2 separate regions of the Homo sapiens genome follow, and region 1 is linked to region 2. Evidence: fine-mapped expression QTL. A gene starts in region 2. The other region holds a variant in brackets. All regions are shown on one strand. Distances are between the middles of the regions.

What was found.
Region 1: its variant is fine-mapped to the expression of NKAIN2 in aorta (GTEx, PIP above 0.99).

The regions. Positions count from the first base shown.
Region 1 is chr6:124,164,229-124,176,226 of GRCh38, reverse strand. All of the region lies in intron 1 of NKAIN2 (sodium/potassium transporting ATPase interacting 2), which reads right to left. Among named protein-coding and RNA genes, the nearest start is that of NKAIN2, 370 kb to the right of the region's middle. The variant A/G (reference allele first, on the strand shown) is at 5,997.
Region 2 is chr6:123,798,505-123,810,502 of GRCh38, reverse strand. NKAIN2 (sodium/potassium transporting ATPase interacting 2) reads right to left here and starts at 6,638. Exons shown (of 7, transcript NM_001040214.3): 1 at 6,249-6,638. The coding sequence starts at 6,302. RefSeq lists an enhancer at 7,833-7,882.

The sequences.
Region 1 (11,998 bases), 370 kb before region 2:
AGCATGTGCTCACTTTGTGTCTCTGTCAGCATCTTTTTTACAATAAAGTATTTTAAAGTATGCACTTTTTTAGACATAATGCTATTGCATAATTAATAGACTACAGTATAGTATAACCCTTATATGTACTGGAAAACCAAAAGATTTGTGTGACTCACTTCATTGCAATATTCCCTTTATTGTGATAGTCTGGAGCCTAAACTACAATATCTCTGAGGTAAGTCTGCATAAACTAGAAAATTTCTCATGAGAGGCAGCATGGAACAGTAGTGTCAGTACTTAAAAAAATGTAAAAAGCAGATTACAATAACATAAATCTACACATGTGATGAAATAAAGAGTGAGAAAGAGAGAAATAAAGGGCAAGAGAGAGATGTACATTCACAAACTTTGGAGAGAACAGTTTTGGTGGAGCAACAAGTTTATTTAGCAAATCGTAGATTGGAAAATAATGTTGAAAACCCAGTGAGGCTACATTTAAAAAAAATCTGAATTGATAAACTAAAGACTTTGGGGTTCATCCTGTAAACAGAAGGGGAAGAGTAAAAGGTTGGGATATGGGAAAAATTATATTAGTAACTTCCCATTGTATAAAAATAATGATATAAAAACAATAGATGTATCTACTAAGTGGGTAGTCATTGAAATTTGTAAACCAATCAGACTTTAACATGTAAGTGATTTTCATTTTCCCATTAGGTACAGGCAGAGGCAGTGTAGACATTATGTGAAACTCACATCATATATTTTAAGCCCTTGTTTTAACTTTTAAATGTTTAGGAAGTTTGACTATTTAAATTTACGCCAAGTGAAGCAGGCAAATCTTTTCTGAAATATTATCCTAACTATCTTAATATTGACTTCAGCTATTTGACTTTCCTGGCCTGAAGCATAATATTGTTCTTTTTTTCCCTACAAATAGTAATGCCTTCATACAGATGTGCAGCCTAGTATGCAGTCTGTGTGAGTGTAGATCTGTCACTCAGGGTGAACTGCAAGTTTCTACAAGCACTTCACGCTGTCTATGCAATGAGAGCCACATGATTCCTGCTTCTTAACAGAAGTAAAGTGCAAAGAAAATCAATAGTATTAATAACATTCAGCACCCACCTTTTGATAACCCAAGTTACAATGGTGCTTAAAAACACACTTTCTATTTATTATTACAACTGAAAATGGCCTTATTTTAATAAGGTAGATACAGGTATTCACAAAGTAAAAGGAGAATCATTCTGTGAATTAAAATTTTTATTAAAGTCCTCAGATAATTTCAAATTTACATATACATTTTACTAAAGTGGTGACATTTAAGTGGTCAAAAAGGAGCTAGAGGGACAATCTTTCAGAGATATATAAGTCAACTGCAAAGACCTTTTCAAAGGGACTGACCAATGTGTCACTAAACTATTTTTTCCTTCCTCCTGGACACCAAGGTTGCCTACATTTCCCTGCTTTTCTTTCATTAGTTGGTTTGGTCATATGACTACATTCTGGCCAATGAAATATGAGTAGAAGTGGTGCCTTCTTTTAGGCCTGACCCTTAATAATCTCTTGATGCAATCCTGCCCTCACTCTCTTTGACCATTCCCTAGTTGAAAGAATAGTTGAATGAATAGGAGTGCTAGGAATTAGAAAAGGGTGGAGTTGGACAGGGTAAGGAGGCTGAATCCCAGAACAACTCTGTAGAACAGAGTACTACCCCTGTATCTATTTAACAAGAAATAAGCTTTTATTGTGCTAAATTACTAAAATTATGAGTTTTTCTTCATTGTACTTAGGCTGCCCTAACTAATTTCTGCAAGGTAGAGATTGTGACCTTTTTATCTTTGTTTTCCTTAAATCCAGAAGTGTGCCTTTTATTTAAGGAGACACTTGAGGAAGTTTGGTTTAGAATGATTAACAGGTAAAGTTGAAAGGTGCTTTTAGTGTGAAGTTTGAATGAACAACTTCTGAATTTTCTTCCAAATTCAGGATTCTGTGGCATTCCATGAATTTTGAATTCTAACTACTGCTGTTTGGTGGGAGTTCTCTTAAGTAAGTTTCATTTTATTATGGAGTGTATGTACCACCTCGCTCATATCAAATATTCCTTTAAATTCTATAAACCTCACAATTTCCCTCTGTTTAATACAGAATATTGACTGCAATGATATCAGATTTTAAAAATAAGAAATGAATACTTCAACATAATATCCCTTCTTGCCTCAAAATGGCCAGATAAACAAAATCCCTATTGCATGCTATACATGAATGTAAACAGTATCCTTCGGCATGAAAATTTTAATCCTTTATTTTCCAAAATAATAGCTATCACCCTAGAAATCAATGATTAAAATTATCAATTATCAAAACTTTACTCTGAAGAGAAGTTTGAAGAAATAAGGAATAAGAACCATCCACTAAGTATCAATCTAATATTGCTTGCTCTACTCTATTGCACAAACCTGAAAAAACTTTCAAAAATGATGATTATATAACAAAGAAGAGGGATATTCAAATTATTTCAATTTCTCCTTACTTTCAAGAGAAAACAAGATAAAATAATATTTGATATAGGTATCATAAAGTCAGTATCAAATTTAGTTTTTAAGTATAATTTTAGAAATAATTTGATTTGGAGCAGCTTTAGCAAGATATAATACCACCATCCCTTTTTCACTCTACAGTTTCTTCAAAGGGCCTATTAATATTATGCAAAGAATCAGCTTTGCATTTTTTATGCACTTTCTTGTTGCTTCTTTAAGGCTCAATCTTTGAGGAAATTTAGTCTTTGTGAAAGGGAAGTTTTTGAGGTAGGAATAGGTATCTCACTTCATTACTGAAATTAGAATATAAGCTTAAAGCTGTTAGAGACTGGAAGACAGAAACATTTCCAGTAAAACTCCCAATCACGTACTAAAAGTAATATATGCTAAAATGAATGTGTAGAACAGGTTGGTGTTATGAAATGTTAAGAATCAACCGAATCATTTTGAATTCATATGTAAAAACTAGTCATGGTGCTTTTATAAGAGCAAGAGAGATTCTCATTTTATCATTATTCTTAATACAATTGTATATGCATTTTATATCATGCAATTAGACAATTTGAAATATTTCATTATTCAGGAGTAGATTACCATCAATTTAAACTGAGAGAGTTTTAGAGGAGACTTCAGATAATCCCCAATCATATTCTACTTCAGTTGTAAAATCAGCTATGATTTGAATTAATGCAATTGTCACTAAATTGCTTAAATGGAAAGCTTTGAGTGTATATGAGGCAATTCCAAAGGCATGTGTAGAAGAAGAAATCTTGCTCATGTGGTACAGGATAAGGAATCAAAGATACAGCCAAACTCTATATGTGAACTATTCCCACACTACATATTAAATGATAGAAACTGATTTCTGAATATTAATGTAAAGATGTTTATAAGTTGCTTGAGCTCCAGCAGATGAGTGCAACAGAATGCTGTAGCCATTTCAGATATGAAATATCTCAAAGTAAAAACCTGGACTGAATTTAAGGTGAATTTAATGTAGTAAAACAAAAAGAAGTAATGATTCCATAAGTTTATACAGATTCTAACAGGCTTTGGAACTTTTTTACTTCCTTCCACAAGAATATATACTTTTTTACTTCCTTCCACAAGAATATATACTTCCTTCCACAAGAATGATATACAGATTTTTAAAATCTGATATCATTGCAGTCAATATTCTGTATTAAACAGAGGGAAATTTTGAGGTTTATAGAATTTAAAGGAATATTTGATATGAGCAAGATGGTACATACACTCCATAATAAAATGAAACTTACGTAGGAGAACTCCCACCAAACAGCAGTAGTTAGAATTAGAATTCAAAATTCATGGAATATATTGCAACCAGGACATTCTACTTACTCTATCCCAGTGTTCTATTCAATTCTATTTCATTCCATTCCACTTCACCTGAGAAAATACTGGTTTTGATATAACAAATTTACTTCAAAAGCCAGTCATGTATTCCATGAAAGAGTTTTTTAAAAACATGCAAATTATTCAAAGAAGAATTAAAAAGTTAAAATATTCAAATCTGTTTCCAAAAATGCAAAAAACTTGTTCAACTTCACTATCATTAAAAAAATTGGGGGCTGGGCACAGTGGCTCACGCCTGTAATCCCAGCACTTTGGGAGGCCGAGGCGGACGGATCACGAGGTCACCAGATGGAGATCACCCTGGCTAACACGGTGAAACCCCGTCTCTACTAAAAATACAAAAAATTAGCTGGGCGTGGCAGCATGTGCCTGTAGTACCAGTTGCTTGGGAGGCTGAGGCAAGTGAGTGGAGATCATGCCATTGTACTCCATCCTGGGCGACAGAGCGAGACTCTCTCTCAAAAAAAAAAAAGAGTCGGCCGCGGTGGCTCACGCCTGTAATCCTAGCACTTTGGGAGGCCAAGGCAGGCGGATTGCCTGAGCTCAGGAGTTCGAGACCAGCCTGGGCAACACGGTGAAACCCCATCTCTACTAAAATACAAAAAAATTAGCCGGGCGTGGCAGCATGTGCCTGTAGTCCCAGTTACTTGGGAGGCTGAGGCAGGAGAATTGCTTGAACCGGGAGGCAGACGTTGCAGTGAGCCGAGATGGTACCACTGCACTCCAGCCTGGGCAACAGAGCAAGACTCTGTCTCAAAAAAAAAAAAAAAAAAAAAATCAAATCGGCCCTCTCTTACGAAAACTTAACATTGTTTTATGATTAGTAATATCACAAAATCTTGGTTTTCTAATTGCTTTAAGAATCTATCATAGGAGGAAAAATTATTCCAGAATGGATCCGAATAAACTGCAGAAATGAATTTTCTAACTTATATCTTTTATTCTTATGTCAAATCTTGCTGTTTCACTTCAAATTACCATGGTCAAAATGAAGAGATGAAAATCTCTAGGTCCTAAAATTTTAAAATTAGAAAGATATGCTAGAGAGCAGAACACGGGAAAATTTTGTCTTTCTGCCAACAGAATTTAGCTCCCAAAACAAAACAAAACAAAAAAAGTTCCTTAAGAATATGGCTGCAAAAAAGCATAATACCTAATGACAAGGATGAGGGTATAGAAACTGTGATAAAATTTACATTTAGTGGAAAAGTGAGAGTTGAGTGTTAGTCTTCACTTTATTTGTTTTAACCTCTTTCCCACACATCTCAAATGAAATTTTCTAAAAAAAAACCTTCACAATTATGAAAATTTGTTTTTTAAAGATAGTGACAAAAATTCTAAAGAAATCACGGTAAATTTTCTTTAAGGAGCATTTTACCAGAGTGAAAAGGTAAGCTTTGAATTGGGGAAAAAACTTATAAAGAACTAATGAGTCAAATGTGATAAATTTTGTCAGAAAATTATCAGTTTACCGAAAGAGACCACAGATATGACTGGATTATCTAGTCAGTTTAGCTAAATATAAACACCCTAGGTATCACCTGAATGTTTATTAGGAACATCCACGGAACTAAAACACATATTACTATCTTTGCTATTTATACTTTCGTATTCTAAATGCATATATTGGACATAAAAAGTGGCTTCATTGAGGCCAAATTCACTGTATTTATAGAAAATATCAAAGGATTTTGTGGAATCCAAGAAGCCACTATCTCTTTATTTAAGAAAAAATCAGTTACTATATGGGGAAGAAATGATACAGAGAAATGTTCTCTAATGAGTTACAGCACACTTTCATTGTCCAACTCTAGCCATTACATTTAATGATTTTGTCTTGACATTCTTTTGCCATACATCAGAGATACTTCTCCCTGCATACTTTCTATTTAGCAGAGAGAAATTCAGGTTAGGGTAAATAGAAAAAAATATCTATGGAAATGGCATAGTGTTCCCTTATATTCATTCAACAAATATCTCTGGAATACGTACAATATGCCAAGTTCACTGTTCAGTACACTGTTCCCAGTGTAGTAGAAAAATAAACAAGGGAACACTTAAATAACACCAAGCAATGTTGTGAAGGAACAATAA[A/G]GCAGTGGAAAAAGAGAGAGTGCAAAGAGGAGTACAAAATATTAGACAATAATGCAGGGAAAGGTGATATTTGAGCTGAGATCTGCATGAAATAAGGAAGCATCCCTGGTGAGGATTTACAGGAATAGAGATTCAGCAAGAAGAAAAGAAGGCTGAACTCAGAAAATGGTTTGCATCCCCATTCTTCTAGGAAGTCCTTCCTCACTTCAGCCCCTAAATGATGTGGCTACTGTTGGGAAGGAAACACTCTTAATAAAAACCCCAAAGTTCCCTAACTAAATCTATTTAATTACAGTACTTAGGCCTCGGCCCAAGCTGACCATTTTAAGGCTGAGCATTTGACCCAAAATGGACCAAAGAGGCTCTTTCTCTGCGATTTCTGAATAAGTGAGTCTGGGGTGAAAGTCCGTTCCACCCCAATGGTGAGGATGCAGAATGTAAAACCAGGAAGCAAACAGAGGTAAGATTTTCCACCTAAGAAGATTTCCATCCTAAGTGCATGGAGATAAGATTTTCCATTCAAAGTGCATGGAGAAAAAAAACATACGCACTAAGAATCAGCATGGCTCAGAAAGGAAAGGAGCAAGGCAGGCCAATGAGAGGGTCTCAGTAGAATTTAAGCCTGGTTGCTTGGTGAGGTGCTTAATTATTTCCTTAAGTTAACTTCTGTAAGTCAGTGAACTTATCTTTTTGCCTAAATTAATTTAATTTGAGAAACTATATTTAGGAACTAAGAGATATTAAAATATGTGCCATGGATTGTAAAATGTAGCAATTCTAGATCAGCCATCAATGTGAAACTGTAGCAAATCCCACTGCTTGGCATTTTTAATACTTAATGAGCAATAATCTTTATCTACTTTGATTGCAAAAAGATAAACTTGTGAAAAGAGCAGAATTAGCCTCTTTCAATATCCAAATTTTATCAAATGCAAATTTCTCAGAATGTAAAGAATATTATTTAGATCTAAGAGAAATAAATTTTTGAGACTATGTATATTTATTATCAGCAAGATAATACTAGAAAAAAACACAGAAATTTATCATTAAGTAATGTTATATATCTTTGGGTGCACAGTGCTATACTGGATAATAAACATCAAAATTTAAATGTACATATATGTGTCTGTGCACATATACACACACATCCAATTCTGAACATTCAATATTAAAGCACATATTGAACATGAGAAATACTGATGTCAAAAGTATACAAGAAGAGCATTTTACTTGTTTTGTGAATTTTTTAACTAGCTTTACTAAAATATACGCAAATATTTGACAAAGAACCATGGGCCTCCAAATATTCCGATTGTTAAAATGAAAATATGCCAATAATTCTGTTTGACACTGTAACCTGTAAATAGTGCAAAAGAATAGTACTCTGAAGTATCATTCACCTTACATCATTTTGGAAGTTAAACTTTGCCTCAACCAAAGGAATTGTTCTTAATATACTTAATAAAATTTACAAGAGGCTGTTACTATCATTAAGATGACTGATTCTCCTTTCAAGATAATATGTTGGTATTAGAGCTAATTTCACAATACCTAAATATTTATTAAGTGTGAACTGGCCAACACACAGGCAATGGTTCTAAAATTCATATTACTCAAAGAATGTTTTATGTTAGATATGTCATTCTTAGTGTGTAGACCACACACACACACACACACAAAATTAACAGGCTTTAACTTTTGTTATATTAATATTTAGCATTTTTCACAAAAGAAAAAATTATAACCCATGGATAACTGTCATTTTAATATTTCAATATTCCATGTATAGACAAGAATGTCTCTTTCAAATTCAGTGTATGTACAAGAGTATCCATACTACAATATCATATAATTCTGAACCATCATTAAATTCTGTTGTAGCTAAAATTCCCAGAAACACCAAATCATTTTTGGAAACTTAAAGTATGATCATTCTGATGGTATCTTTACTGGTCAGATGCATTTCAGGTGATTAGTCCTTCAGTTAACTTGTCAAATTTTACAGACTTATGGCCAGCATATATAGCAATACTAATACAAACTGACAATGATGTAATATGAACTTGTGCACTATTATAAAAAAATTAAATGTCCAATTTGCAAAGAGATGATAAACCAGGACAGATACTAATTTGATTTTGCTTCAAACTCTTCACCTATGATTCAAATGTAATGACAAATAATGTGGCATTGAGGCAGAATAAATGCTTGGTTTTTTATGTGGGTACCACATGGGTTTTGGATTCTCAAAAGAGAAGGAAATGGTTAGAAATATATCTCTATGGTCACATGTACTTTGATAAACATTACATTGCAAAGTTTCAGGAGCTCAATTCAAGAGGCTACCTAAGTACATAAAAATCACTGAATCTATAATGCATCACTGAAGTCAATATACACAAATCAATAAATGTAATCCAGCATACAAACAGAACCAAAGACAAAAACCACATGATTATCTCAATAGATGCAGAAAAGGCCTTTGACAAAATTCAACAACCCTTCATGCTAAAAACTCTCAATAAATTAGGTACTGATGGGACATATCTCAAAATAATAAGAGCTATCTATGACAAAACCACAGCCAATATCATACTGAATGGGCAAAAACTGGAAGCATTCCCTTTGAAAACTGGCACAAGACAGGGATGCCCTCTCTCGCCACTCCTATTCAACATAGTGTTGGAAGTTCTGGCCAGGGCATTCAGGCAGGAGAAGGAAATAAAGGGTATTCAATTAGGAAAAGAGGAAGTCAAATTGTCCCTGTTTGCAGATGACATCATTGTATATCTAAAAAACCCCATTGTCTCAGCCCAAAATCTCCTTAAGCTGATAAGCAACTTCAGCAATGTCTCAGGATACAAAATCAATGTACAAAAATCACAAGCATTCTTATACACCAATAACAGACAAACAGAGAGCCAAATCATGAGTGAACTCCCATTCACAATTGCTTCAAAGAGAATAAAATACCTAGGAATCCAACTTACAAGGGACATGAAGGACCTCTTCAAGGAGAACTACAAACCACTGCTCAAGGAAATAAAAGAGGATACAAACAAATGGAAGAACATTCCATGCTCATGGGTAGGAAGAATCAATATCGTGAAAATGGCCATACTGCCCAAGGTAATTTATAGATTCAATGCCATCCCCATCAAGCTACCAATGACTTTCTTCACAGAATTGGAAAAAACTACTTTAAAGTTCATATGGAACCAAAAAAGAGCCCGCATCCCCAAGTCAATCCTAAGCCAAAAGAACAAAGCTGGAGGCATCACGCTACCTGACTTCAAACTATACTACAAGGCTACAGTAACCAAAACAGCATGGTACTGGTACCAAAACAGAGATATAGATCAATGGAACAGAACAGAGCCCTCAGAAATAACGCCGCATATCTACAACTATCTGATCTTTGACAAACCTGACAAAAACAAGCAATGGGGAAAGGATTCCCTATTTAATAAATGGTGCTGGGAAAACTGGCTAGCCATATGGAGAAAGCTGAAACTGGATCCCTTCCTTACACCTTATACAAAAATTAATTCAAGATGGATTAAAGACTTAAACCTTAGACCTAAAACCATAAAAACCCTAGAAGAAAACCTAGGCATTACCATTCAGGACATAGGCATGGGCAAGGACTTCATGTCTAAAACACCAAAAGCAATGGCAACAAAAGACAAAATTGACAAATGGGATCTAATGAAACTAAAGAGCTTCTGCACAGCAAAAGAAACTACCATCAGAGTGAACAGGCAACCTACAAAATTGGAGAAAATTTTTGCAACCTACTCATCTGACAAAGGGCTAATATCTAGAATCTACAATGAACTCCAACCAATTTACAAGAAAAAAACAAACAACCCCATCAACAAGTGGGCGAAGGAAATGAACAGACACTTCTCAAAAGAAGACATTTATGCAGCCAAAAAACACATGAAAAAATGCTCACCATCACTGGCCATCAGAGAAATGCAAATCAAAACCACAATGAGATACCATCTCACACCAGTTAGAATGGCGATCATTAAAAAGTCAGGAAACAACAGGTGCTGGAGAGGATGTGGAGAAATAGGAACACTTTTACACTGTTGGTGGGACTGTCAACTAGTTCAACCATTGTGGAAGTCAGTGTGGCGATTCCTCAGGGATCTAGAACTAGAAATACCATTTGACCCAGCCATCCCATTACTGGGTATATACCCAAAGGACTATAAATCATGCTGCTATAAAGACACATGCACACGTATGTTTATTGCGGCACTATTCACAATAGCAAAGACTTGGAACCAACCCAAATGTCCAACAATGATAGACTGGATTAAGAAAATGTGGCACATATACACCATGGAATACTATGCAGCCATAAAAAATGATGAGTTCATGTCCTTTGTAGGGACATGGATGAAATTGGAAATCATCATTCTCAGTAAACTATCGCAAGGACAAAAAACCAAACACCACATGTTCTCACTCATAGGTGGGAATTGAACAATGAGAACACATGGACACAGGGAGGGGAACATCACACTCTGGGGACTGTGGTGGGGTAGGGGGAGGGGGGAGGGATAGCATTAGGAGATATACCTAATGCTAAATGACGAGTTAATGGGTGCAGCACACCAGCATGGCACATGTATATATATGTAATTAACCTGCACATTGTGCACATGTACCCTAAAACTTAAAGTATAATAATAATAAAATAAAATAAAAAAATACATAAACTGATTGTTAGAGTTGGAGGACATATTTTACTAACACATCATTTTCAAACAAACTGGTATATTGGGAAAATATAGCAAAAAAGGAAATTGAATAAAATGTAGAATTACATTCATTCATATTTTCTCACTAGTAGAAGTTTTAATTCAGGGCTGACCATTCCTGCCTATTAGCAACATTTTATTAAGCCCATAATTAGTGATTCCAATTTTTCCTCAAGGGACAGTGCACTTCTAATTTGGGAAAACTATTATTAAAGAAAGCTTCTTAATATATTTCAAGGCATATTCACATATTTCAAAATGTTTAAAATTTTTATAGTCACAATAAATGCTTTTCACCAATACCAAAAATATAAGAGCCACAGACACAGATTACCACTAAAGTATTCTTTAGCACTTAAGAAATTTTGGGCCTTAAAGAAGTAATAAAGTAATCTTCATTTTACAAGATATTAGTTATAATTAATAAGAAATATTTCTAAAACCCTACAAGATTGTCTAGAAAAAGAACCTCTGACCATGAAAGTCATTTAAATGAACAATCAAGTTATGGCTCTAAACCTAATATTCTGTCACAAATGTACCATGATTTGTTCTAACCCCTACTTGTACCAATGTAAGCATATTGTGAAGCACATAAGATGCACATTGTTACTTTAAAATAAGAAACAAATTAACAAAGAATACTCTCAATTTTCTGGTTTTGTGGCGATCCACTTGCCTTATAATTTTTCACAGCACTCCATGAATATTTTTTGTAATACGACCGCCAGTTTAATAGTTAAGCCCACACTACTTAAAACATACTTATGGTCTACCCGAGTAGCAATTTGAAAAAAATAATGCACATAAATTGAAAGAAAAAAAGATTTACTCTTACGTAATCAACATTACTAATAACATGTGTCTATTGGATGTTGTGCAACTTCTTAAAACTTGGAATCGAATTAGACACCACCACCTATATATCCTATTCCACGCTGATTTCCCCATGGTACTTGCTTTTTACCACAGGAAGCACTGAAAACTCTGCTTCTCAACGATGTGATATCATCAAAAGAAACTATTGTGTTCTAATGTTAAATCTGTGAACTACTTGGAGGAAGTACTCTGTGTGATGTTTAACAGATGTTGAGTATCACTATTTTCCTTAAAATTTAAAATAATCCATGGTGCCTATTTGAGTTAATATGGTTTCCTGGGGCGCTTTAATACACAGTTTGGGAAACGTGGGTATATGCTGTTTTACTCTAGGCTCTCTATTTTCCG
Region 2 (11,998 bases):
TCTGCCCTTTTATTCTCTAGTCCATACACCAGCTGCTCATAGTTGTCAAACCCCAAGATTACCTAAGTCGGTCAGGTTTGGACAGGAGCCTGACATCAATCAACCCCACCTCTCTAAACCTAAGTGTTGACTAATGGGTCACTAAGGAATTAGTAGGTAGGTACTTACTTTCTTTAAGAAAAAAAAAACATGAGAGGCTGCTATAGTTTTATTTTACATGGAAGGGATGCAGTGTGGCACAGGTTCAGAGTCAGGCTGAGATTCAGACAGACCCGGGTTTGAATCCAAGCTTCTCCACTTACTAAGAGGATGACTTAAAAACACAGCTTAACGTTTCAAGGCCTCCATCTCCTCCCTGGTAAAGTGAGGATATTAATATCTATTACCTGCCTCATAGGATTACCAGAGAGGATTCAGTGGGGGGAAAAAAAAACATATTTAGCCAAGAACAAGCTTCCAATAAATAATAGTTTTCATTATTATTTTATAAAACTAGATTTTTAAATGCATAACAAATTATTTAAAAATGTATGAAATGAAAAAATTTATTTCAAAATGCACTTAAAAATCAGTTTATATGTAGCATTTCAAGGAGTTTTTACAGGGATCAAGTTAGCATGTGATCCACAACTAGCTGAAAGGGTAAAAATCATAAGCTTTTGAAGTCACCTTATTCTTATTTCAGGTTGGAAAAACAAAAAGAGTCTATACCTGCATAAGATTAAATCTTAGAATATTCCTATAAGCTAGACCCACTGCCTGTTTTATAATTCAAGGAAAGAAAAAGAAAAATACTTATTTCAGGAAGATGAAGCTAGTAATTTCTTTATATATTAAGCATTTTATATCTAAACACAACTGAAGTATTTTTTAACAAAAGAAAAAGCGTAACAAATTTATTACGTGCGCACATGTGCACAGCAGTATTACAAAATATGAACTCCTGAAATACTAAAAGAGGAGAAAACCAAGTTATAAACTTCATTTCTACCATAACCTGGAGAAAGAAAATGATATAGAAGTTTATCTTGTTCCTTCATAATTTTTAAATGTGCTTTAATCTCTTGGGAATGGTAAGAACAAATGCTTCATATAATTTTATTTCCATCCTATAGAAATTAGGAATAAATAGAGTACTTATTCTATCATTGTATGAAAAAAGGTAGCCCTACATACATTGTATCTTGATGGCTTATGTATTTTATTATATTGATAATAAACAACAATCAAGTTTCCATGAGGGGAAAAAAATAACAAAAATCAGAAGAGTTCATTATATCAGAAAAAAAATGGGAAACAAATATTTTTCCTATGTGTGTGTTTCATTTCTGACATTTGTATGTTATTGGAAATAGGGTAATTTCCATTAATAGCAATATTAGTTTCAAAACTGCTTATGAAAAAAGTATACTGCACTGTTTGAAATTCTACCAAATAACATAACTGAAATACAACCTTTGGAATTGTAGGCATTATCTGTATATACGAATATTTAATGCAATTGGTGCCATTAACTTTTGTATTTATATTTCCAGGATCAACATAGAAATGTTAAAATATGTTTCTGTCTCTCAGATTTTATTTCTCTCAAGCACACACATATTAAAAATAAAAAACAAAAAATAAAGACTTCCTATTTTAAGGAATCCCTGACTTCCACTCTGAAATTCCTGACTGGGCAAGTAGAGAATCTGACCTCAAAGTAAAGCAGCATCAGAGGGAAAGGAGGTAGCAAAGCACATTTGCATTTCTGGGTCATTACCCACATACGGGCCCCATGCCAGAGATGACTCTGGCACTCTGCAGAAAAAATGCTGCCCATCCAAGCCTTTATTTGAGAAAGCAGGAGAACAGCTCCACATGGGTTGACTTTTTGAAACTTTAGCTGTATTCAAGAAAATAAGTCGCTACCTGCTTTGTGAACGAAGAAAGAAGAGTTGGACACTGGAAGAAGTTTCTAGGTATCTCCTGGTATATATAAGGCAGAGAAGAGTAGTGCTGAATTACAGTGAGAATAAATTAAAAACAAAACCATGTGCAACAATATTCAGGATGCATAAATAGAAAACATTTAAAAAGAAGAAAGTTATCATTTTACAACTTAGCAAACTCAACATATTTTTACATGATAAGTTTCTAAAGTATTGTATGGGGATTTTCAGTCTTCTTCATGAGTAAGTTTGGTTAACAACTTCAAGATTTTATCATCAATGGCATCTGAATCCTAAAAAGTTAAAATTCTCTGAGCCAGGAAGTTTTGTGGCAGATAAAGTTATAAACTTCTGAAAAACCGTCAAACTTGTCAGAAGTATACCAGGAATATCATAAGATTCTACCTGCACTTTTCAAGCTACTTCACAGCAACGCTTTATTTTCTAAAAAGTAATAAAATAGCACATGATTATGAACACTGCATAAAATCATGATCACTGAAATATTCCATAATTATAATAAAATTGTTTTTAATTTAGTCTACACTCACAACATCTTAAGGAAAAAAAATATGTACCTTTGAAAATGGTTAGCAATCCTGTGATAGAAAGTAACTGATCATTCTTAATTAAGTTTCAAATGTACTCCTTCACACAGCTGCACACACAATGTGTACTAACCTAATTGTTAGTTGCACCTGCTCCAAGTTAACAATATTTCATACAGCCCATGGCAATAGTGGCATTTTTCAAGTGTTATTCTGTGGAGTGTAAATCTAAACTTTCTTTCAATAGTTTATGACATGTTTTGTGCCACCCAGAAGTCTAAAGTACAAAATAGGGGATTTTGAGTTTCCTTACTTGAAAACAAATCTGTCCTTTCAGTCTAAATTAAGTTATATTCTTTCATATTTTAACGTATTTTTTCACACTGAGAGATATCAGAGTAATTTTTTCCACATTTATAAAAGAACTCTGATTCAATCAAACATTGGGGAAAACATGCCAAAACTTTCACAAGTTGAAAGTTACAAATAGTAAATAAGAAGTTAAAAACTTCTTGTCCTATACCACTACATCCACCATTGCAAATGCAGTGATGATTTTTGTTACTATCTGAAATCTTCAGTTTCTGAGTATTAAGGACAGCAATGATAAAAAGAAAATTACCTTCTTGAGATTATGAGCTTAAGCTCTGGATTCTGCACATGGAATAAATCTGTTTCCAGAGATCATACTCCTTTACGTAGGAATCACCCTAAAATCTGAAGTTGGCATAACCATACAACTCAAAGATTTTAATTTATGATATATATGGAAACAGTTTTTCATAAAATGGAAGTTTTGTATGAATCTCTATGGTATGGAATTCTAGTTTCTTGTTTTATAAACGGATCTCCTGATTTTTGAGAAGAGTATATGTTTATCAATACTTGTAGTCTGCCAAACATTAAATTAAATGTATATTTAACTAATTTAAAGCACAGATATAGAATTCTGACAGGTAAATGTCTCTGAAGAATCTGCCTCTGTCCCTCAATTGTTAAATGGTCAAAACACCGTGTCTGGTCTGATAATAACTTAATAAATGAGATCACCATATCCACAATACCAAAAGCCACCTCATCCTCTCCTAAGATTAGCTGCAAATTGGTACAGATGTAAATATTCCCTTAAATTTATTTAAAATACAAATACTTTGCTCCGAGGACTGGAGATTAATGTTTCCAGAACCTTAATCAAGTCACATAATAAAGCAACTGAATAAAGTTTCTAACTTAGAGTCTCTTTGGCCTTTTTTCCTGTACAGTTACCAAAAAAAAGATGCCCAAATGTTACAAGAACACATACTAAACACTTGAGAAGTAAACAAAACTGGGTTAACTTTTATTTCAGTCAATGGTACATGAGTCATAACTTAGTCTAGAAACCTGGTTTATTTGTAAAACAATCTACTCATAATAGCGCAAAGACATAAAAAGTTTTTAAAAATCTATTGAGAGCAAAAGGAAAACATACACACCCACCTATTTTTTAGTGCAGGGCTTTGCAACTATTAATTTGCAAAAGAATTATTTTATTTAAAATCAAATACCGTATTTCCAAAAAGCAACAATTACCAAGAATCTCTGAGGTCCTTTGAGGTGTGATCATTTCACCCTATCAAAACAATTGCATTTTCTTTGTCCTTTGTTTTTTGTTCTGCATCTGCGTTAACATGGCTGCTAATTATATTAGCCTGGTGGCACATAAAGTCTGAATGGGAAAAATCACATGATTCTCATATAATATAAAAACTCCTTAGGATTCCAATGTACACTTACTTAGATTGTGCTCTTCTGTATTACAGCTACGTCTATTCTGTTAGAGAACTTAATTATAATTCAGAATTTCTGTTTCATAAGTGATGGTGCAACTCTCCAAGACACCATTGTATGTATGGATGCATGCATGTACTCAAGAGCATATGTACATACACACATATGTGAGCACATAAAAACACAAAGGAACCTTTAGCTTTATCATTCTACTTTGAATAGATAGCTTCCCTACTGGTATATTTATGTTTTTCTAAAATTAAGTTCTTGAGGAGTTTGTATTCATCACACAAAATGTCATACAGACCTAGTGCATACATTTGCCATAAGAAAGCCCTATTATATTACATGATTAGAAGTTAAATCACATTTTTCAAATTTTAAATCGAAAAGAGCATAAGAATGATCTACACACCCACTCATTCTCACATTTTTATGCTTTCACACAGTGAATCAGCAAATGTATTCTTTTTCTGAATAATATATAAAAATAAGAATGTTTTGAAAACCTTTATACAGTTTGGCAGACTTAGCCTAATGGGTTGTTTAACAAAGTAAACTCCCTCATTGTTTTGGTTAGCTTTATTATTAAGAGTAAAAATCCTTCATTGCAAAACTTATATGAATCTGTGGTACAGAAAAATAAACTGGTTTACACATCATTGAGAAACTACCACATTCTGAAAATTACATTTATAGTTCCATCTTTGTCTTACAACCAAGTGCATAAGCGCATAAATCACAGATCAAAATAGACACCATCAGATAACTTTCAGGGGAAAGAAAAACATCCTAAGACAACACACAACAAAAAGCACTGTTTCAGCTAAATATTAAACAAAGCAGCAATAACTAACACTCATGGGCTTCACGACAACTGATAAACAAGAACACTTAAGGAATTCCTCTGCCAGTTTCAATGGCAAATCCTTGCTCTTTTGAACACTTTACTGATTGGACACTTAAACATCTTCTGCCTTGTAGTCACTTCAACCTTTATGAAACAGTTGTTGAAAACGGACATGACTATTCCAGTTAATTTATACTTTCTAAGGAAATATATTTAATGACAAGTGTGAGCAAGTAGCTCCTACCTCAAATTAACCACTTAGAGTGGTGTATTTTTCACCTCTCAACTCTCTACTCAGACCCTCCTTCCATTGCCCTTAGGGAATTGAAATTCAGAGACATGACGTTTTCCATTATTGGTTCCTTGCCCCTTTGCAACTGTACAACATTCCTCAAAAAGTACATAGAATTCTCCATCCTATAGGATCAGACAACAGTATCTATTTCAGGAGCAATAATATGCATAATGTAAGACAGAATAGTTTTTCTTGGAATTGTCTGTGTTAATTGTGATTTAAAGGTTACTGGTTCCGTCTATGACAATGGTGTTGCTGAGTTCACCTAAGTATTTTTGTTCAATCTGCATACTTTAAAAACTCAATGTGGCTAAAACTCAAACAGTCTAAATTAGACTGTTGTAAGGATACCATGTGCCCTAAACAGTGGTTTTTTTAGAGCATTATACTTAAAGACAACATTTTCCTTAAAAAAAGAAAAAAAACATGTCTATGAAGAAACAAAGATACTGCAAAATTAGTATAGAGAAGAAAAGTCCAAAATTCCGTATTCCTCTGTTTAACAACCTGTACGGTAAATTGTAGGTGACAATCACGTTGTTACATGAATAGGAATGCAAAGCATAAAGAACAAGAGCTACATCTTGCTTTTCCTAAAGAAATTAAAGACAAGTTTAACCCGCACCTGCCAAACTGTCTTAAAAGGGACAGAAATAGGTGGGAACGGAAAGGCTCACCTCTCCTGTACCCCAGAGTGCGTCTCCCTGAAATCATCTTCAATATAGGCAATATATCTGTCACCTTCTCTTTTATCTTTTTCGTCCATTCTAGTCAATGGCAGACCCTTTGCTGCACTCCCCTGCCCACTATCTCAAAGACACATTACAGAATAAGGGGACCCAAGTGTCACTTACCAGTTGCATGCCACAGATAAAGATAAGCGTGCACCTGCCACTGCAATAACCCATGGTTTCCGAGACCCCTGCCACAGCCAGACTGTCCCACGTCGGCCACCGTCGAGCCCCCACTTTATCCAATCAGATCGCGGGGAAGGACACGCAAACCTGCCGAGGGCTCGGGGGCTCCGGGCTGCTGCTGCTGCCAGCGTCCTGGGAAGTGACAGGCATTAGGACCTGCTGGCGCGGCGGCGGCGGCGGCGGCAGCTCCAGCCGCGCCCGCCACACATACCTTCACTCGCTCGGTGCACACGCCGCGCCGCGGGCAGTGCCGCCTGCGGAGGCGCGCTCGGGGCCCGCAGGGGCAGCAGCGGCAGCCTGGCAGCGCCGCCGCGCCCTCGGGCATCTGGCCCGCGAAGTTTCGCCCCTGCCGCTCTCCGCGCCGCTCGCCTCACGCCCCCCAGCGCGGCCGCCGCCCGACGCGCGCTCGCCCTGCGCTCGCCGCGCGCCGGCTCCGGGGGCGGCAGAAGCGCGCGAGGGCCGCTGCCCGCCTCCCTGCGCAGCCCGCGGCTCCTAGGCACCCTGCGTTGCTGGGCCCGGCGGGCGGGGGTGGGGCGGGGAGCGGGGCGCGGGCCGAGCGGGGGCGTCCCGGCTCCGCGGTCCCCGGCGGCTGCTGCAGCGGCTGCTGCGCGCAATGATGCGGGTCCGCGCCGCGTCCCAGCAGCGGCGCTGCCCCTCCCTTCGCCCAGATGTGTGAATCCTCCTCCTACAACAAATCCTTCATCCTGCTCCCTGCCGCCCCCTCCCAGGGGGCCAACTTTGAGGACCGCAGGGGCTGCCGCCCAGGCGGCCGCAGGCGGCGGTGTCTAGGCGGAAAGGAGCGGCGCGAAAGCGGCGGCGGCGGGGACCGGGGCCTCGGGGCGAGGAGTCTGGGCGGCATGACCGCGGTTTGCTGAGCTGAAGTCGGTCGTGCTCCCAGAGCCACTCCGCGGGAGCGAACCGAGTGTGTGTGTGCGCGCGCGCTCGGGGGAGAAGGGACCAAGAGGAGGGTTAGGGAAGGAAGCTGGGGTCATGGAACAGGGGTGCAACCGAGGCATCCAGAGCGGCCGGAAAGCCCGAGTGGCGGAGAGGCCAGAGGTGGCGAGAAGGGGCGCGGCGGCACCGGACGCACCGCCCAGCACCTGGCTCCCCTGGGCTCCCGAGGATCTGAAGGGTCGGAGCGCGGAGAGCTACGGAGCCGACCCTGCTTGGGGAAGGGGACCGAGTTGCTGCTGGAGTTGGGAAAAATTAGCAACCGGAGGGAATAGGGATGCAATGAGTTGCTGTTGCTGCTTCAAACTGTTGTTTGTTTTCACTTAAAATACTAAAGAGTCGGAGACTAGTTTAATACTCAGTTACTTCAGCTTCACAGCAGTCCCAGCTGGGTGTGGATTCCTAGTGGAGATGCACCAGCCTCCGCTGAGCACCGGCCTGAAAGCTGTGAAGCGGCTGCTACCTGCAGAGACAGGCTTCGGAGCCCGCTGCTGCCACCTGCGGGCGGAAAGCTGAAGGGCGCAACATGCTGGCCCAAGTGGCTGCCCCTGGGGCGTGGATATTTAGGACCAAGTTTCCTTTTTAGCCCTGGCAGCTAAGGAAAGCAATCCTAACTTTTCCAGGAAGTGAAGATTATTTGTTGAGATCCACTGAGGAACTGACTCATTGGGGTGAAGTGTCGCGATTGATAAGAGGATGGTTTAGGGAGCTAAATAGCAAACAGCTCCCTAGCACCCTTCTTAAGAGATTAAGATGACGAAGCCACATCAAGCAGAGAGCTCTCTGTAGCAACTGGAACTTGGCGCCTACTGAGAAAAATGGCATTTATACAGGATAAAGTTATGCTGGGAACCACAAATAAGGATCCCGAATGATTGCTTCCTTTGAATAAACATTATGACGTATCAGAATGACTAAATACAAATAAATTGAATAGGGCAGAGAGACTATTCTCCAGAGCCTGGCACTGAATTTTCAGAAACGTTTCGTCAGTCCTAGGGAGCCAAAAAGGGATTAACTTTGTTAAATTTATGGAGCACAGATATTTTATTGCTATAATGAGAATGTCTGGTTTTAATCGACCCATTTGTAAAGGGGCTTTTCTTCTGAAAAGTGTCTTTCAATGTTTAATAAAATTCCCAAGAGCCCAATATGTGCTCTTAGGCACTGCAAAGCCTGGAAGGTAATAGTTCCACAACCTTTGGTAAAACTGAAGCCAGTTATCTAGTGGAAAATGTTTCTCTTAGTTGCTCTTCTGTCTTTATACACGTTAGCTGTCCTGTACCTGCTAGGGCTATGGGTATTTTGCATTGCCAAACAGAAAGCTGTAAGTTAATTGACTGTTGAAGAAGCTGCTGCCATACTGTCAAAAGCATTCTATTACCTCCTCAAATTAATCATAGGAACAACACATTTATATGGATCCCTCCGTAATCCTGCAGAGGTTTCCCTGCAACCAGCAATAGCCTGAGTAATCTTTAGGTTGTATAGGAAAGCAGAATGCTATCTGTAGCTGACTCCAGCAGTGCCCCACCATAGTTCTTGGACTGTGCCCTTTCAGTCCATGCTTGCGTTTTTGTAATCACTTGGGACAGTCTGTTTTCTAGCCATTGGAGGTGCTTGGCTGAACAATAAGGTTCCAGCCCTAAGAGCTACCCTCACGCAATAATGGATGGGAATTGGAGGATAAATACCCCAGCTTCTTCAATCCTCATATGGGAAACCGTCAGACATGTTCTAGTCTACACCATTAAGGTCCCCACCGAGATTGAGCCCTAGGTGTCCACAGTAGTAACTGGCTCATTCATGCGCTCTGAATTGGCTTCCTTCCCTTCCATGCCTCATCTCCCTGCTTTCATACCACTGCTTCCTGGGATCACCTCTGAAATAAACCACTCAAATCCTTGTGTCAGAGCCTGCCTCTTGAGAATCCCAACCTAAGGCAGTCTCCAGGGGCTTTTATACCTCATCTGACGTCATTGGCACAGTGTTCTCAGAAGTGTGAACTACAAACAATGTTGAGACTTCACTATGTGCAACTACTGCCTTATGTACTAAACCTACATCGTCTCATTCATTCCTCACAGGAAACACATGAGTTGATACAATGCACATTCTAAAGATATACAAACTCAGAGAGAAATCAAATATTTTTATCACGGGTGCACGTGTTCTTGGCGGCAGAATTAGAATTTGAAGGGCATGATTATAAGACACCAAAATTCGCTTTTCGAACTACTGTACCACACTCCTTTATTTCAATATACTTCCCTGTCATTCTTTTAGAATTCCATACGAAAGTGATGACAAAAATATTTAGAAGAATAATCACACATATTTTATCTCTAAATTGGCATCACATCCTTTACATACAGTATAGGCAATGCCTGACTTATGAAAGGGCACCCTAGTTATAGATGCAATTCTATAACTTAATGTGGCTATGCACTTCCTATTCTGTTTTCTATTATTCCTGGAACTGAGTGTCTTAGTAGAAGAGACTAAAAAGAGAATCCCAACAGTTCCACAGACGTTTGTGAAGGAGAGAGATGTCTCCAATTTGAATGTTGATTGCATTTTCACTTAGAAATAAGGTCATAAACTGTTTTGCTATATAAGGTGTTAGACCTTTTGTTGACTAATATGGTGACATAAGTATTGTGAATTGCCTTGTTTCTATGGGGAAAATGTGCTGCACATTCCACACCTCCATCTGCCTCACCTTCCCGTACTGTTTTAAAGTAGTTTTCAAGGTTGTTTCAGATCTATTATCTCATTTATCTCTCAGAACAACTCATGCAATGCAGTAGGCACACAGCCACTGAGTGAACCGGGTTACAGACTGCTAACACTCAATCACTTCAGCTACACCAAAAGCTCAAGCTTGGCGTTGCAACTCTGCTAAACAATTTCACTGAGTTTTATTGCCTCCATTCATTATTTTAAATCATGAAAGCAAAAATTAGTTCTCTTGAAGATTTTTGTGGGTACATAGTAGATGTATATATTTATGGGGTACAGGAGACATTTCGATACAGGCATAGGATGCATAATAATCACATCTTTACAATCACAAAACCAACCTATTTGACTCATTGTACACATTATATATTTTATATTAACATGGATTTTTTTCTTGTTTGGATAATGATTAGGAAAATGATAGTATATTTTAAATGTTAATGGCATATAAGATGAAAATAGCCACCAATTCTTCCATCCAGAGATAATTGATGTCATTTTTATACAAACCATTTTCTAACAAAAATAGGGTGATATCATGCACAACATCTTTTAACCTGCTTTTTTTCACTTGACAATAGACCAAAAACATGTATCCAGGTTATTAACTATTAAGTTCATGGACTCTGCAGCCAGACATTGAGTTTCATAATCCAAGCTCTGCCATTTATCAACTATGTAGTCTTAGGTAAATTGCTTAGCTCTTTGTGCTTTGGTTTTCTTATTTATAAAATGGGAGGGGTAATAATGCACATATAGAGTTTTTGGGAGAATTTAGTAAGCATCAACTAAGTTAAACTTTTAGAGCAATGCTGTATTAGGGCTCTCTAAAGAGACAGAACTAATGGAATATATATATATTTATATATATATGGGAGTTTTATATATATATGTTTTATATATATGCCATATATATATATATATATATATATATATATATATATATATATATGGGAGTTTATTAAGTACTAACTCACAGGATCACAGGGTCCCACAATAGGCTGTCTGCAAGCTGAGGAGCAAGGAGAGCCAGTCCGAGTTCCAACAATGAAGAACTTGGAGTCTGATATTCAAGGGCAGGGAGCATCCAGCATGGGAGAGAGATGCAGTCTGGGAGGCTAGGTCAGTCTCACTTTTCGCATTTTTCTGCCTGCTTATATTCTAGCCAAGCTGGCAGATGATTAGATTGTGTCTACCCAGATTAAGGGTGAGTCTGCCTTTCCCAACCCGCTGACTGAAATGTTAATCTCCTTTGGCAACACCCTCACAGACACACCCAGGATCAATACTTTGTATCCTTAGATCCAATCAAGTTGACACTCAGTATTAACCATCACAAGTCTACCTTTGTCAACTTGAACCCATATGCATTTCCTGATATCATACATAATCTTCAAATAATGACAGTAATAAGGTCATAATTATGCCTAACATAATACAGCTATCTTTCATACAAACGGAAACCCACCAATCCCCAACCCGAACACTATTACATAAAGTTAACAACACTTAAATGCTCATGTGAAGTCAAAAACTCTTATGTCACATGGGAAAGGAGAAAGGAAATAAAATGAAGATATTTTCTTAGTACAAGTGTATACAAGCACAAACATATTTTTAACAAAAGAAGGAGGAAATAACTCATGACAATTACAGTCCCCATAGCTGCAGCAGGTCACCTGGTCATAGCTGGTATTGATGACTGCCTTCTTCTACTATCCATTCTGTATTCCCTTTGCCTTCAGCAAGCACCTTAGCAGGGTGTGTGTGTGAGTGTGTGTGTGTGTATGTGTGTGTGTTGTTTTTTTTTCCTGGTAGAGTGATGCAAACCTTCATTCCTGAAGGGTCTGGTCATTCGTAGTCCTGTTTGGATTGGGCTGTTGTACTTTCCATTGACCTTAATCACAGGGCATGGTAATACTAAGAGACACTCTAATGGATCTCCTGTATTTCATGCATACTCTTCCTTACCTTCGTGGTGGAGTAGTAGACTG